Linked DNA regions of Homo sapiens. The protein of the gene in region 2 interacts with the protein of the main gene of each other region in a biochemical or structural test. Each region holds a gene or a part of one and is shown on either strand. Other genes may lie near its edges.

Region 1 (7,142 bases), about 30 Mb from region 2:
CTTATTGTAGAAAAGCATAACACATTCAAATGGCATCTAGTTAAATGCTTGTTTTAACTTACAGAATGAATGAGTGAGAAAAAATTGTCCAAAGATTACCATGGTGGAAAGACTAATATAAGCCTCACAAATCAACACCTAAGGAAAAGACTTAACAATACAGTGGATGCTGATCTCCATATTGGATTATGGATCAAAATTTTCTGGTGATTAATAAATATCAAGTATTATGCACAAATCCAGATTTCCTGAAACAGAATCTTGGAGGTGGTTGTAGAGGAAAAAATGGTGGGAAAGAATCCTGGGAATGTGTATTTTTTTTTAAATTTTTATTTTTAGTTTTGGGGTACATGTGCAGGGTGTGCAGATTTGTTACATAGGTAAACGTGTGCCGTGGTGCTTTGTTGCACCTATCAACCCATCACCTAGGAATTAAGCCCAGGATGCATTAGCTACGGGAATGTGTATTTTTAGTAAGCCCTCCCTTTTCTACCCCAGGTGATTCTTAGGCAAGCCATGGGGCAAGTCTGTGGTCAAGCATTTGGGAACCTCTGGTATAGTAAAATGTACACTGAACAAAGAGTCAAAAAACTTAGGCTCTAATCATAGATCTGCTGCTAATTTATCTGGGACAATTTACTTAACCCTGAAAAATTTGTCTTCTTAGTGAGGCGCTTCGTTTCTTGATAACTTTTCCCATGCTTTGTAAGGTTCATTGGTGCCTAATATATTGTGATTCATCAGTTTTATCTTTCATGACTTTCTAAAGCAAACCTCTAATAGAAGAGTAAATACACAATTGCATGATTAACTTCAAGAGAAGATTAAACTGCCTATATATTCCACAAGCAAAAATTCCTAGCTCAGGACTGAACTGTGTCCTGCACCAGGAGCTTGCACATGTGTATAACATATTTTCTACATGTGTCCATTATCTGGGTTATATCCATTAATGGTCAATAAATTAGAAAAATCTGTGGCTGCCCATTGATTCTTAACATTTCAAAAGTGTGTTACCTCCAAAAGATATCTACCCCTAAACAGCAATACAAGAGATTTGCAAAAACACAACTATCTTCCAGTCTTATCAAGCACCATTCTGATGTTCTAATAATTTATTATAATTAGCAAATAGAAGTGTCTGTCAATAAAATCTAATAATTTTCCGATTACTGACTTTAGTCATTACATATATAGGCTGTGTATATGCCTACATCCATATTCCTACATCTAACAGTGCTTAACTGGCAGAGAAGAGAGGCTCATGAAATAGTTGTTGAATTAATAAAAGAAGCAAGACAAGAAGGGAAGGAAGAAAAAGCAATAGAAAAAGTTGGGCTTATTTTAATGAGGGTCATGAAGTTTTCCATCATTGGGCACGTCACCATCCACCTCCATTAGCTTATGAATCTTCCATAGGAAATATGTTGGGGCATGTGGACTTCCCTTAAATGTAAAACAAACAAACAAACAAACAAACAAAACCCCCAAGATATTTAGTAGAAAGACTTTCAGGATTTGCTCTGAAAGGAATAGCTCACCTTTTTGTAAACAGAGGCTTTCATTGACCAGTTTTCCCTCCTTGTTGACATCTATTTTCATCCAGCTATGGAGGTATTTCCTGGCCTTCTTGACCACTACTCTGGAGCCTTGTTTCTGGAGAAAGAGAGAGGCATTTTCCACCTCAAGGAAGCCTTCCTGATCATAGCAGGTCCATCGGGGTGCCTGGGAACAGCGGTCCAAGATGGCTGAGCGGGAGGGGCCGCGGGAAGAGTTGGAGATGGCCAAGCACAGTGCAGATTTAACATGAAGGAGCTTTTCATCCTCAGTCCACATCCACTGCTGGTTCTGGATGGTCCTGTTGCATGAGCCCACGACCACTTTCTCATTTTTGAAAAGACACTGTTGTTTCTGGACATGGACAATCTGAAACCCTTCTGGAAGATGAAAAGCTCATAAAGCACTATGTAGCAAATTATGAGGCCCATTAGAAAACGGAAGAACCCACCCACAAATGAGCTAAATAAAATCACTAGTTTTACTTATATTTTGTTATTTCTATCATTTCAAGTGAACATTCTCATATTTAACACATGTGATTTAAAATTCCAAAGCTGACGATATAAAATGTCAATATGTTACACTTAACTCCCCATCTTTTTTTTTTTTTTAATTTTCACATGCTTTAGGGGAAAAAAGCACACCTCTTATTGGAAAATGAAAGGAAGCTTGGAAAGAAACAAAACCATCCAAAGTATATAGTATATTTTAGCCCAATTAGTTAGATATGCTGAAGTTATGAAATGCTCAGCTCCCTTTTTAACCATTTGACATATTCGATATAAGCTTCCTCCCTTACCTTAAAAAAGCACCCCCTTTTCCAGTCTTTAAATTCACATTGCAGTATTTATATACAAATTTCATAGTTTGAATAACAATTTTTTAAAATTGCATACATTTATCAAAAAATAAAACAAATTTTCCCACTTCTCCAAGCACAACCTCCTAGCTAATTGCAGCCAATGAAAGTATTGATTATCACAAACTAAATTTCCTTTAGTCGTGGAGAGGAGCATTTCTCTATTTTATGACAATATCTACAGTTTTCTCTCAAATACGAATAGATTTTCTAAAAATCATCATGTGCCAGTGTAAGAAAATTAAACATCAAATTGCTAAACATCAGTATTAAAGAGCAAGATACTCTGGCTCAGAAACCATTTTCAATGAGGTTTTACTTAAATTGCCCAGCTCGCTCATGAAAATGTTCAGCCCTCCCAAATGACAACTTCCAAATAAAACACACTACATTTCCTCACCCCCTTTAATCATATTCCTTCAATTTTCTTTCTTCAACACAAAAGAAAATAAAACTATAACCGGGTCGGAAAAAGGCTTGGGGAAAGCCACAGACTGTTATATAATAATACAAACTTTTCCTCGGGGTTCTTTACGCTCTGCTCTAAATGTATCATTTCAGGGGCTGCCTGAAGCATTTGGAGGATGAGAGGAGAGCATTTATTTTCTTTTGGAGAGAAATCTCAACAGTATGGGCATAGCTGGCTCCTTTTATTCCTGCTTTTCATCGTCTTTGGCTAAACTGCCATGGAGACCTGGCCCCTTCTACCTTATTTCAGACACTTCAAAGACCAGGGACTCCTTGGCTAGATCTTGAAGAAATGCCTCAGGACACTGAGGCAGACCCACTCACCTGAGTTCCTGAAGATCAAGCAGGTAAGAATCACCATGTAAAATTCAGCCTCCATTTTCCACTTAGCAACTGTTCATGCTTCGCTTGGGGAAAAAAAAAATTCTCCCAGATAAGAGAAGCAAAGACTAGGAAGGAAATGTGCCTTCATGGTGGGGGGAAAAGTCAGTGACGAGCACTTCCTCCTATTGAATTGTTTGGGGAAGTTTTACACCAGTGTCCTTTTGTCTGTTTCCTTAGAAAGAAGGGATTATGATTACCTCTTTTTTTTAATGTAGAAAATATTCCAGCCTTCAAGAGCAGAGTAAATCTCGTTAAGACCTCACCTACCTTTCCTTTGGCATGTGACTGCTTCTTAACCTCAAGAAGAAAGAAAGGAATTGAAATCTCAGATAATTGAATGTTCCTGAAACATTACATCTCTTCAGGTGATGTGATTCTGCTGAATAAACATAAGCCATGTAATTGATGAGGGTCTATGACAAGTGATATAAAGACATAAACATGTACTGTTTGTATAATGATATGCTGCGAGTCTATTGAGGAAAACCACATAATGATGGCACTTCTAGATCATTATCTCCCAAGTGATGACAATATTACATTTTGAGATCGTCATCTTCACTGGGGAGATGCAGACACTAAAATTAAACCCATCACATTATCTACTTTGGTCTTCCCCAAACAGAGGATGGCGTCTTTCCAAATAGAAAAAAAAAAAAGAATATGCTTTACTCAGTATTTAGTATTAAGAGTTTATTGGCAGTATGAAACAAAGTCAACATTGCTGCATTAAAAATTCATATATGAGCAGAACAGCTAGTGTTTGCTGAGGGTAGTTATTTTAATTTTTTTTGTCTCTTGAAGATTGAAAGCTTTCAGAAATGTAAGGACATACATGGAAATGTCCTTATAAGGAGCCTCGAAAATGGGACAGATTATATCATTCCTGAAGGCATATACCTTTTGTTGAGAGAGAGATTCCAGGTAGATAGCATATTCAAAAATCCCTTCTTAGCAAAAGAGAGACAAGTAGTTAAAACTCTTGATACTTCAGAGTTGCTACAAATTTGTTTTTCCCTTTTAAAGTAAAATGACTCACGATGTGGAAATACAGTGGATAGAGTTCTGGAGCAGAAGCCACCTTTATGCCCAATAATAGAGAGTAAATACATATATACCCAATGACAATCATTGTGCTCTGTAATTGTTTGATAGGAGGGACTATAAATACACATTTAATAGGTAATATTATCAAGACACATTTCCATATAAAATAGTTACTGTTTTTGATTTTTGTTTTTCAAAAACAAAGACTTCTCTGTTAAAAATCCATTATCAATCACTTGCAACTTTAGCAGCAAGATTCTGGTAACTGAGAAAGGTAATAGCACTTCAAAACAGGAACAGTTTAACAGCTGACAGTCCATTCACAAGACAGATTTTGCAAACATTAAAGCATCTAACACATAATACGAATGTCTTCAGCAGCTCATCCAGTCATCACCTGATGACATTTATTACTGAATATTACATACATACATTCTGTGTGGCAGATAGAGTCAGTACAGACAAAACAAAATCTGCCTTAGGCTGTGTGATAAACCTATCATACCTCCATCATCAAAAAACCTTCAGAATAATTTGGGGGATGCTTACAAATGCATTCATATACACAAGGAGCTGGAAATCTTAAATATGTTGCCCAGTCTTCCACAATCCATGCCATACATGGGCTTCAGAGCTTCTCCTTCCTTCCATTGCAGGAAGCTCCTTCTAGAAGCCTTGGGTGGGTAATTTGATTAATCACCCCAAGAGATTGATGGTCTGACAAGTCTTCAATGACTCACTGGACAGTCTCTGCTGAAAGTCTGCTCTCATACAGGCACAGAGCATGGTGCACAAATTCATACTGCTCACTGGTTTGCACCATTCCACCTCTGCAAGGAAGAAATCATAAAATAACTGATTTTGCTAAAATCTTGCAATTTCAAGTAACACAGAGATTTCATCCAAGCTAGGGTATTATGCCAAAGACACATAGAACAGTCGACCTAGTGGTTCTTTTGTTATCCCTCTTACCTGTGTCCAAATGTCTCAACTATCAAAGTTAACATGGTAATGTATATAAAGGGCTTAACACAGTTCCCAGCACACACTAGGCACGTGATTAATTTTTACCTGTGTAACATTACTGGGGAGGTGGTACAGCCTAATGATCAAGTACTTGGATTTGGCATCAGCCAAGGTGAGTTCAAATCCCTCCTCTGCCAATTCTTAGCTGTATGCATCTTGGACAAATTCCTCGAAACCCCTTGCACTTTAGTTTCTTCCTCTGTTAAAGCAGGATAGTAACAGTAACTACTGCTGTGAAGGTTAAATAAATTCATTGTAGCTGGTATATTTGTATTACTTCTCAGGTGCCTCATGATTCATCTCTTGTTAAAATGGTTTATACATTTGGCTTAAAATTGATTGACGGAGACAAACCAAACAAAACTCATCTGCAAAATGTTGCTTTCTACAAGTAAAATGAAGTCTACCTTGGAATGGTTTATTTGAATATGTTGTACAGAAGCAACCTTAGCCTTTTGGTGTACGGGGTGTCTAAACACAATAGTGGGTGGGTCCTTAAATGAGTTGGAAAAAGGGAATTGGCTCTGCTGTGACATTTTCCTCTTGGTTATCACCATTATCATCACTAGCTGCCCAGCACCCTCCTTGTCAATGGATTCATAGAAAGCACTTGCCTTCATGAGAAATAACGGTGCTTCTCATTATGTTTTTATATACATAATACCTATATCACATTTTCCCCCTTCATAATTATGATCCTTTTTTAATTTTAGTTTTTGAGAAAACGTCTCCTTAATTGCTTAGGCTGTTGTGCAGTGGCATGATCACAGCTCAGTGCAGCCTCAACTTCCTGGGATCAAGCAATTCTCCCACCTCAGCCTCTGGTGTAGCTGGGACCACAGGCACCACCACACCTGGACAATTTTTAAATTTTTTTTTTCTTGTAGAGACAAGGCCTCACTATGTTGCCCAGGCTGGTCTCCTGGACTCAAGTGATCCTCTTGTCTTGGGCTCCCAAAGTGATGGAATCACAGGCTTGAACGACGGTGTCCAGTCCTATAATTATGATTTTTTAGCTTGACAAAGTTACCAGACATTAATATGTTACTATTCCTGCTCACTGTATAAAAGCATCACTATCGGTAACTATTTAAAGTCTTGTAAATTCTCTGTAACTCTGCAATCATGCAACTGATCTTATCTTTTAGTTTAACTCTATGTTTTAACCAGATTTTTCCAAGTGGTTGTTAGTATCATTCAAAATAACTTTCAGATTATTTAGGCACTTCAACTTAAAAACAAGATATCTTGTCTCACTGTAACAAGACTTCTAGTTAATGGTAATAATAAAAACTGGGCTTCTATGTTTATTTGTCAATCTATGTCAATATTAGAGCAGTAAAACTTCCTTGTTTTAAACTAAACAGTGATTCCCCAGGAAAATTAACATGATGTCAAAATGATGTAATTGGCAAAAAATAAAGAGGTAAATTCACAGTTTTTGGTGACAGCAACTTATTGACAGAAGTATTTAATTGGTCTTCCTCCCCTAGAGCTGTACATTTTGTTGCATTGAAGGCAACCTTCTGGGCTAAGTATTCCTTGGTCAGAAGTGAACAACAGAAATGGCCAGCTGAGAATGTGGTAATGGTTTATCTTCTTAGCTGTGTGATGACATCTGGGCTCATCTAAAATCATAGCAGGTGTTCCGAAGATGCTGGCTTGAACTGTGAAGCTTGGGAGACACCACCACAGTAAATATTAGGGTAGCTCCAGGGAGCTGAGAGGTGCCTCCCTTCCTCTGGCATTTGCACAGCTCAGGGCACCATTACTCCCTCTTGAGCTGCAGACAGTATGT
Region 2 (7,629 bases):
GAAAGTTAGAAAAATTAAGAAAAAAGTACGCTATCAGAGCATTGTGGTGTCAAGGAGCAAAATTTCAAGAAGATGGACAATATGGAAAATAGAAGGTCAGAAGAGAACAATCGATAATACATCAATAAAAAGAAAACAAACATTGGAATTGAGGAGGAGCTTACTGGTGAGTTAGAATAAGTTGTGGGATATGATAGAGACCATGGCCAATTTACATGTAGAAATAGATGGAAATTGGAGAATTTGTTGATTTTTTTTGAAATAAGGCAATTACAGGACATATTTTGTATACAGAAATATAAATTGTCTATTTCAGCTCTTCCTAGTTGGTCTCAAGGGACACAAGATACAAGAGAATACATAGAACCAGTACATAGTCATAATCCCTACTGTAGAACCGAGTCATTCTATGAAAAGATATAGAAACACCTTATGTCATCCATTACTCCTCATGGAGAGGATCATAAAGCCAGAGGAAGTTTCCTCCCAAGGCATAGCCTTCTACCAAAAAAATATCCCCAAATCATTGCTGCACCCATCCAGCTTCTTAGGATGATGCTTCCTGAACAAGAATCTTTAAGGCTACTTATTATAGGACTGTGTTCAATGTGGTGGGGTATACAAAAAGATTATAAGTGTAGTCTTTTTCTGCAAAGTACTTCCTAATTAGAAAACAAATCAGACATACAAATGAGGATTAAGCAACAAAATAAGACTAAGTATGATTAAGTTCCCAAGTGAAAATAGTCTACTAGAGATTCTGAAGAGGAGTGATCGTTTTGTTAGAACCATGAATTTTAAAATGCATTTAGTTGATACATACCTATGTATTGTTATTATTACCAGTAGCCCTGTTTATTAATGACCCACTATGCGCCCATCCCCATGATAGAAACATGCATGCTTTTTATGGCCCTCATAGCAACCTGAAATTTCAATGCTATAAAATTCCTTTTGAAGACAAGAAAACAGATTCTCAGAGTTTAATTATCTTGCTCCAAATCAGATCATCAGGAAGTTGCAGAGCAAAATTAAAAGCCAGCTCGCACTGCCTATGATGGTAACTTGGTAGATTAAATAATTTATCTTCAAAATGACTTGGCAAGTTAGAATTTTGTTCTTAAAACACAGAATTAAATTTTGTAGGGATACATGTCAGACTAGAACCGAATAAACTTGGTTTATATTGTTCCTGGTATCAACATTAACCACATTTTGTTGCCAGGACCAAAAATCCTGGGAAGCTAAAAAGTATTCTATTTGAGGGGAAACTGCTATGCAGTATAATTACACGGCAGGTTGTTGGAATATTAAAGTTTTCAGAAGACTTTCAACCAATCACTTGTGTCTTCTGAATCTTAGTTTCTTCATCTGTGAAAATGGAAAGGTTGTCATCAGGAATAAGTAATTTCAGGGAATGGCAAAGATAAATGCACATACATCAATCTATAAAAGAAAGTTCACATAGTACAAATAGATGTGATATGAAAAAGCAGTACAAATTTAAATATCAGGTCCACATGTAAAATCTGTACAAAGAAATACCTCACATCTACCCCCGCAAGGGTTCTAGCAGTTCCTTAGTCCTGGAAAGTGGGTGGATCCATTCCCAGATCCCCAAATGCTGTTAGCCATAAGTTACCACTGAAATAAATTTACTACCAAATAACCAAACCATTATGCCGAGTCTAATAAAATATCCCAGATACGGCATGTATTAATTTGATTTGCGTTACACTTCGGGCTGGTAAGGTTCATATGTACACTTAGAAACCGAAAAATGCGGCGAAATGGATGAAGATTATATTGGCACTCTAAGAATGTTTGCAAAATACTGAAATATTGAAAACATGAAATATGACATATTGAAAACATGAAATATGAAATATTGATCTTTACGTGAGTTACAAAAACATTATTTCACGCAGGGTTTCAGCAGTCTGAATGCTTCTTCTCCGGCTTTTCCCCCAATGGAGAATTGGATTCCCTTTTGCCCCGCCCACTCAGTGCTTCCAGATTGCTTGAGAAGGCCAAGGCAGCCGGCTCAGCAGCAGGGAAGCCGGGCTGGGTATGCAGGAGCTATATATAGCTCCACCTTGGAGATGTGCACACACAAGCACACGTACGAATACCCATGCCCGGTTTGGCATGAAAATAAATAAATAAATAAGGAAAGGTCGCAGCTATCCGCTTTCCCTCTTTCCCATCATCCCAATTTTTCAGGAATTTTCAAAGCAGGGTGTCATCAGTCCCAGAGGGTGATGCAGCGTCGGATCTCTCTGCAATTCTTCTGCCTACTGCTCCCAGCAATCTGACTCCTGCAGGAACCGGCACTGGGCCAACACCTACTACCCAGATGCGGTCACCTAGGGAGGCAGCCTCGCAGCCGCTCGGAGCCCATCCGGGCACAATCACTTGACTCCCTGGAAATCCCTGAAGCCAAATCCACCTTTCAGAAACTAGGTGTGAAGGTGGTTCCCGTAGACAGCGCCAGGCTAGGAGGGAAGGGGCCGTGGCTCCGCGGTCTCTCCCTCCCACCTGCCGCAGATCGTGGAGAAGGGCCGGTGCCTTCTCAACGGAGACGTAATTAATCGGAACGTGCCCTTCGAGTTGCAGGGATTCTTCCCCACCCCCATCTCCTGAAGGGAGCTAGATCTTAACAGAGGGGTCAGGGGACAAACAAGTCGCTTCCTCCCCTCTCCGCAACCGCTCCCAGGTTTTCCGGGATGCGCTAGCCAGGCGCCCAGGTGGGATGGGAAAGATGAGCAGGTGCGGGCCGGCGTCGGGAGAAAAAGACCTGCAGGCCCCGGGCTGCCGACCTCTCTGCTTCCCCACCCCTCCCCTGCCGAGGCGATATGGCATCCCTGGGGCGAGTTCCCGGCGCTGGCGGCGGCAGCCTCCGAAAGGAAAGTTGACGAGACACAGACCCCGAGCTCGGAGCCCTCTTCTAGGGCACTGCCGTCCTGCCTTGCCCGGCACCCCAGGGCTCCGGCATCCCGCACCCCTGCTTCCCCGCACCCCAGCCACCTCCGCCCCAGTCCTTCCCGCGCCGCACGGCGAGAGCTGCAGGGACCACAGGAGATTTGGGGGTGACGAGGGCTGGGCGGGGCTGGGGGAAGGGAAGCAACAGCATGGAAATGCGCATTCTTTATTTTATCTGCAAAGAAGGAAAAGTCCAGCTTCCTACCTGTTCCCTGCTCCTGCTCGCCTCGGTGCGGCACAGCTGGACCATACCCTACAGGTTTCCCACTTCCGCTGCAAACACCTGGGAGCGCATCTCCCCACCGGCGCCCCTCCTCGCCTCGGCGGAGCCCACCCTGGCTACTTGACAGCAGAAGCCCGGCCTTTTAGGGCGGTTATTGGGGCAGCAGGGAAAGTGGGGCGGGGACCACAGGGAAACCCGCTTCTCTGATTGGACAACAGGGATATCACTCTCACCCCCAGGACCAGCGCAGGCTGCAGACTTGGGTAGCTGCTAAACCCAACTGCAAAGGGTCTCTGCAGTGCCTGAAACCCAAACCTGCTGCTACCGGATCAAGGACCCTTGCTGGAGAGAAACTGGTTTGATGACTTGTCATTTGGGGCCCCAAGAGGGAGGGAGGGTCCAGGCATAACTAGACACCCAGCACTTTCCTGAAGCTTCCCTGAAGGGACCATCTGCTCCGGGAGATTTGTCAGGCGAAAATACCAAGCCAGCGCCTCATAGAGAAGAATGAGCTTCGATTAGGAAATAATAAGATACTTATGTGGGAAAAAATACACACACAGAAAGGAAAATAAAACGATGTGAGGTTTTTTTTTAAAGTTTCCATTTTTGTCCAGATGTAACATGGCAGTTTTTCTTGAGAAAAGACGGAATTGCTTAGTCTGTAATGCAGAAGACCCCCTAATATTCCCTGGTAGAAACAGTGTTTTAAACGGGAAAGCACTGCATAATAACCTCTCAAAAAAAAAAAAAGGGTAAAAGAAATTAAGGCCAAACTGCATGAGAGATTTGCTTTGGGGCAGTTCAGTTTGTGGCAAAAGTCTTAAAATAATCACCATTAGACTGATTGATAATTAAGTGATCTGTTACTTTTCTATTGATAGTAGTTTATCATTTCTTTAGTACTCAGACACTGAGAGGATGTTTATGCCCCCAAACCTAAGTGATCCCAAGCCTGCCTTTTATGTGAAGGGAACAGGGTAAAATAACTTTGTGTCCAGTTGCCATCTCTGCCATTTATTCAGGTGGAATCTGGAAATTTTGGAATTCAAGAGACTCCTTAAATGAAGGAACGTGCTAGAACTACCACGTGTAAAACTGGGAGTGTAGGGTGTCTTAGTATATAGTACCATGTGAGGAATCAAGTTGCCTTCTGCCTGCAAATAGCCACATTCTTCTTCTATCTGAATTAAGTAGCCATCTTAAGTGCTGAGCATAAGACACAACTCTCATTCTCACAGAGCTTCAAAGAGCTTATGACAGGCTTGGGACACTGGACAACTGTTAGAGAAGATGACATTGCTATTAATAAATATAGACTCTACTTAGTGGTTACGGTTGTTATTACTATCATCAGGTAAGGCTCTTCATAATGTTTTCTTCATAATACTGAAGGAATCCGATTAATGCATTTGAAGGTGGGGGCCGGGCGAGGTGGCTCATGCCTGTAATCCCAGCACTTTGGCAGGCGAGGCAGGCGGATCACAAGGTCAGGAGATCGAGACCATCCTGGCTAACACGGTGAAACCTCGTCTCTACTCAAAAAAAAAAAAAAAAAAAAAAATACAAAAAATACAAAAAATTAGCCGGGCATGGTGTTGGGCGCCTGCAGTCCCAGCTACTCAGAAAGCTGAGGCAGGAGAATGGCGTGAACCCAGGAGGCGGAGTTTGCAGTGAGCGGAGATTGCGCCACCGCACTCCAGCCTGGGCGACAGAGCGAGACTCCGCCTCAAAAAATAAAATAAAATAAAATAAAATAAAATAAAATAAAATAAAATAAAATAAAATAAAATAAAATAAAATAATAAAATAAAATAAAATAATGCATTTGAAGGTGGGAAGGGACCCTGGAGAAAATTTACAGTGAACAAATAGATATTATTTGTGTGGTGACAACCATCTTAACACTGAATGGAAATGACTAAATATGCCGTGGCAAAATTTCAGAACCCCTGTGTCATTTCTTACACAATACTCCTATTAGTCATGCACCTCTGTCCCAGGTACTCACACCAGTTATTCCATTGGATTGGCCAAATCATTCATGAATTACTGAGTACTTTTTCAATGCCATACCCTGTGTTAGGTGCTACAGAACTAAAGCAGAATAATGTATTGGACACATTAAAGATGATCTCAGGAAGCAATTACAATAGTAATATTTCTAAGGAATGTGTGTTTGCAACACGAACATCTTTTGATTCCTAAGCATAAATTATTTTGAGTCAAAATGAGCTTCAACATACTCTCCTCTAGAGGTAATCAGAGGAGAAGAAAAAGTATCAAAGAAAATACCTAAATATTGAAGACAACACAAGAATTGAAATTGGTAATGAAAAGAAAACTAAAGACATCTCTGCTATCTGCGTTCTTTCATTGCTTCACTCATTCATTCCTTCAACAAATATTACTATTATAAATGTGATGGTGAATAAAATAGGCAAGCTCTCATGGAACACATTCTTTATTCTTCAAGCAGACAATGTTACTTTGTGCATTTACTGTGATCTAATTAGCAGCTTTGTGTGTACATGCAAACACAACTCTGGAACAGTATTAAGATAATTTCTCTCTGGATCAGGCATCTCACACATTTTCAAGTAAAACAGAGCATTTTCAGGTTATTGCTTATTATCTCAAAGAGAAAAACCTGTACATATGTTCCCACAATACAAATGAATATGTCAAAGGTATCTGCTGCTGCAGAACATTTTAGATTTTCCAAATCACTTTCAGATACAATTTCCCTCTGTGTTCTAAAATAAGCAGGAGAGTCATCATTAGTCGCATTTCACCATGAGGAAATTGAGTAACCAAAGAGAAATGTGGTCCTTCAAAAACAAAGGCAGTAAACTATTATAGGTGGGTATATAATGCTTGGCATATTGCAGACATCTAATATGTATTTGCTGACAAATATATGGTTTTGAAAATATGAAAGTTTGAAGGATCTTAGAAAGTATTGAACTCCTTGTAATGCCAGCACTTTGGGAGGCCGAGGCAGGCAGATCATCGGAGGTTGGGAGTTCGAGACCAGCCTGACCAACATGAAGAAACCCAGTGTCTACTAAAAATACAAAATTAGCTGGGCATGCTGGCCCATGCCTGTAATCCTAGCTACTCAGGAGGCTGAGGCAGGAGAATCTCTTGAACCTGGGAGACGGAGGTGGTTGCGGTAAGCCGAGATGGCACCATTGCACTCCAGCCTGGGCAGCAATGGGAGCAAAACTCTGTCTCAAAAAAAAAAAAAAAAAGAAAAGAAAAAGAAAGAATTGTTGAATTCCACTCATTATTCTGTGAGGGAGGGACAGAATTTGCTTAAGGTCATGTGACTAGTTAGGGGAAAGCTGCAGCTAGACCCCAGGTCTTAAGACTTCATTCATTACTTTTTCTACCACATGAACAATAAGAGTTTTGGTATTTCTTTCAGCAGAGTTCCTTCTCTTTTTCCTCCCTGTATCATCCAGCCTTTTGATGTTTTCAGGACTGATCCAGCTGGTGTACTCATCTTCCAGCGTCTATAAAAATATGTGAAAGCATGCCACTTTAACTATAAATTCAGCTCAGATTCAACGTGCTTGTAAGTTTGAGGTCGGCTTCATGAGTATGGGATCAGAGTCATCAGGACTGGTGTCGAGGTATGAAGAAAGCTGTTGGAAAATGAATGGCCAGCTGGCACTTCTGTCCCTAAAATTAGGAAGAAGGGAATTATAGAAACAATAGTCTGAAGGCTTCCAATCTGGCAGTCTGGTATAGAACCTGTCTGCAGATCTTCAAAAGAAACAGTAGGACAATTTTGTCATGTGCCCTGGATGGCTCTGACTCCCTAGTCACTTACAGAGTTCCATAGTACAATTTACTGGGCATTGCTTTGCTAAACTGCCCTTGGCCTTATTGAATTCTCCTGTCTTCCCCTCCTTTTTCCACCCTGCACTGGCCCTCCTTCTTCAAACATTCCAATTTCCTCCAACTAGTGATTAAACCTCAGTGAAGGGAAAGGAAACTACAGCAACAGTGCAGCTTTCCACAGCATGTACTCCCTTTCTTTCTCCTCTGCTCCGCCCACCGTTTCCTCACTTCTCCAGGCTTCCCAGAACAATTTCTAACATACTCGATATGGCAAAAAAGCAGGAGAGTAAGGAAAACGGGCCTTTTCCAATTAATATTTTAAGCTGCAATTACCACAGCAGAAAGGTAACCAAGGTTCTGCCTGCTGGTTTAAAGAGAGTCATGCTAAACCCAGTCTGCAGCATCTCAGAGATCACGTCAGCTCACTGACCTAGCTTTTACATAGCCAACTGGGAATCCAGGCAATGGGATGGATGCACAGTGCACCAAGCTTGCATGCACACACACACACACACACACTATCAGTGCCACGTGGTGGGGAGACCAGGACGGGAAAGTTTTTGAATACTAAATAC

What was found. Proteins that work in one complex are often made in the same cells at the same time.
Region 1: the proteins of CNTN1 (region 2) and PTPRB form a complex in vitro, tested with the Homo sapiens proteins (2 studies listed by BioGRID).

What each region holds. Positions count from the first base shown.
Region 1 is NC_000012.12:70,634,130-70,641,271, forward strand, and holds the start of PTPRB (receptor-type tyrosine-protein phosphatase beta), read right to left. Parts: upstream 3,301-7,142; 5' UTR 3,267-3,300; coding exon 3,212-3,266; intron 1,938-3,211; coding exon 1,542-1,937; intron 1-1,541. Other genes in the region: PTPRR (receptor-type tyrosine-protein phosphatase R isoform 1 precursor), read right to left, coding at 5,055-5,148. UniProt on the Homo sapiens protein: Plays an important role in blood vessel remodeling and angiogenesis. Not necessary for the initial formation of blood vessels, but is essential for their maintenance and remodeling. Can induce dephosphorylation of TEK/TIE2, CDH5/VE-cadherin and KDR/VEGFR-2.
Region 2 is NC_000012.12:40,688,151-40,695,779, reverse strand, and holds the start of CNTN1 (contactin-1 isoform 1 precursor), read right to left. Parts: upstream 3,342-7,629; 5' UTR 3,188-3,341; intron 1-3,187. UniProt on the Homo sapiens protein: Contactins mediate cell surface interactions during nervous system development.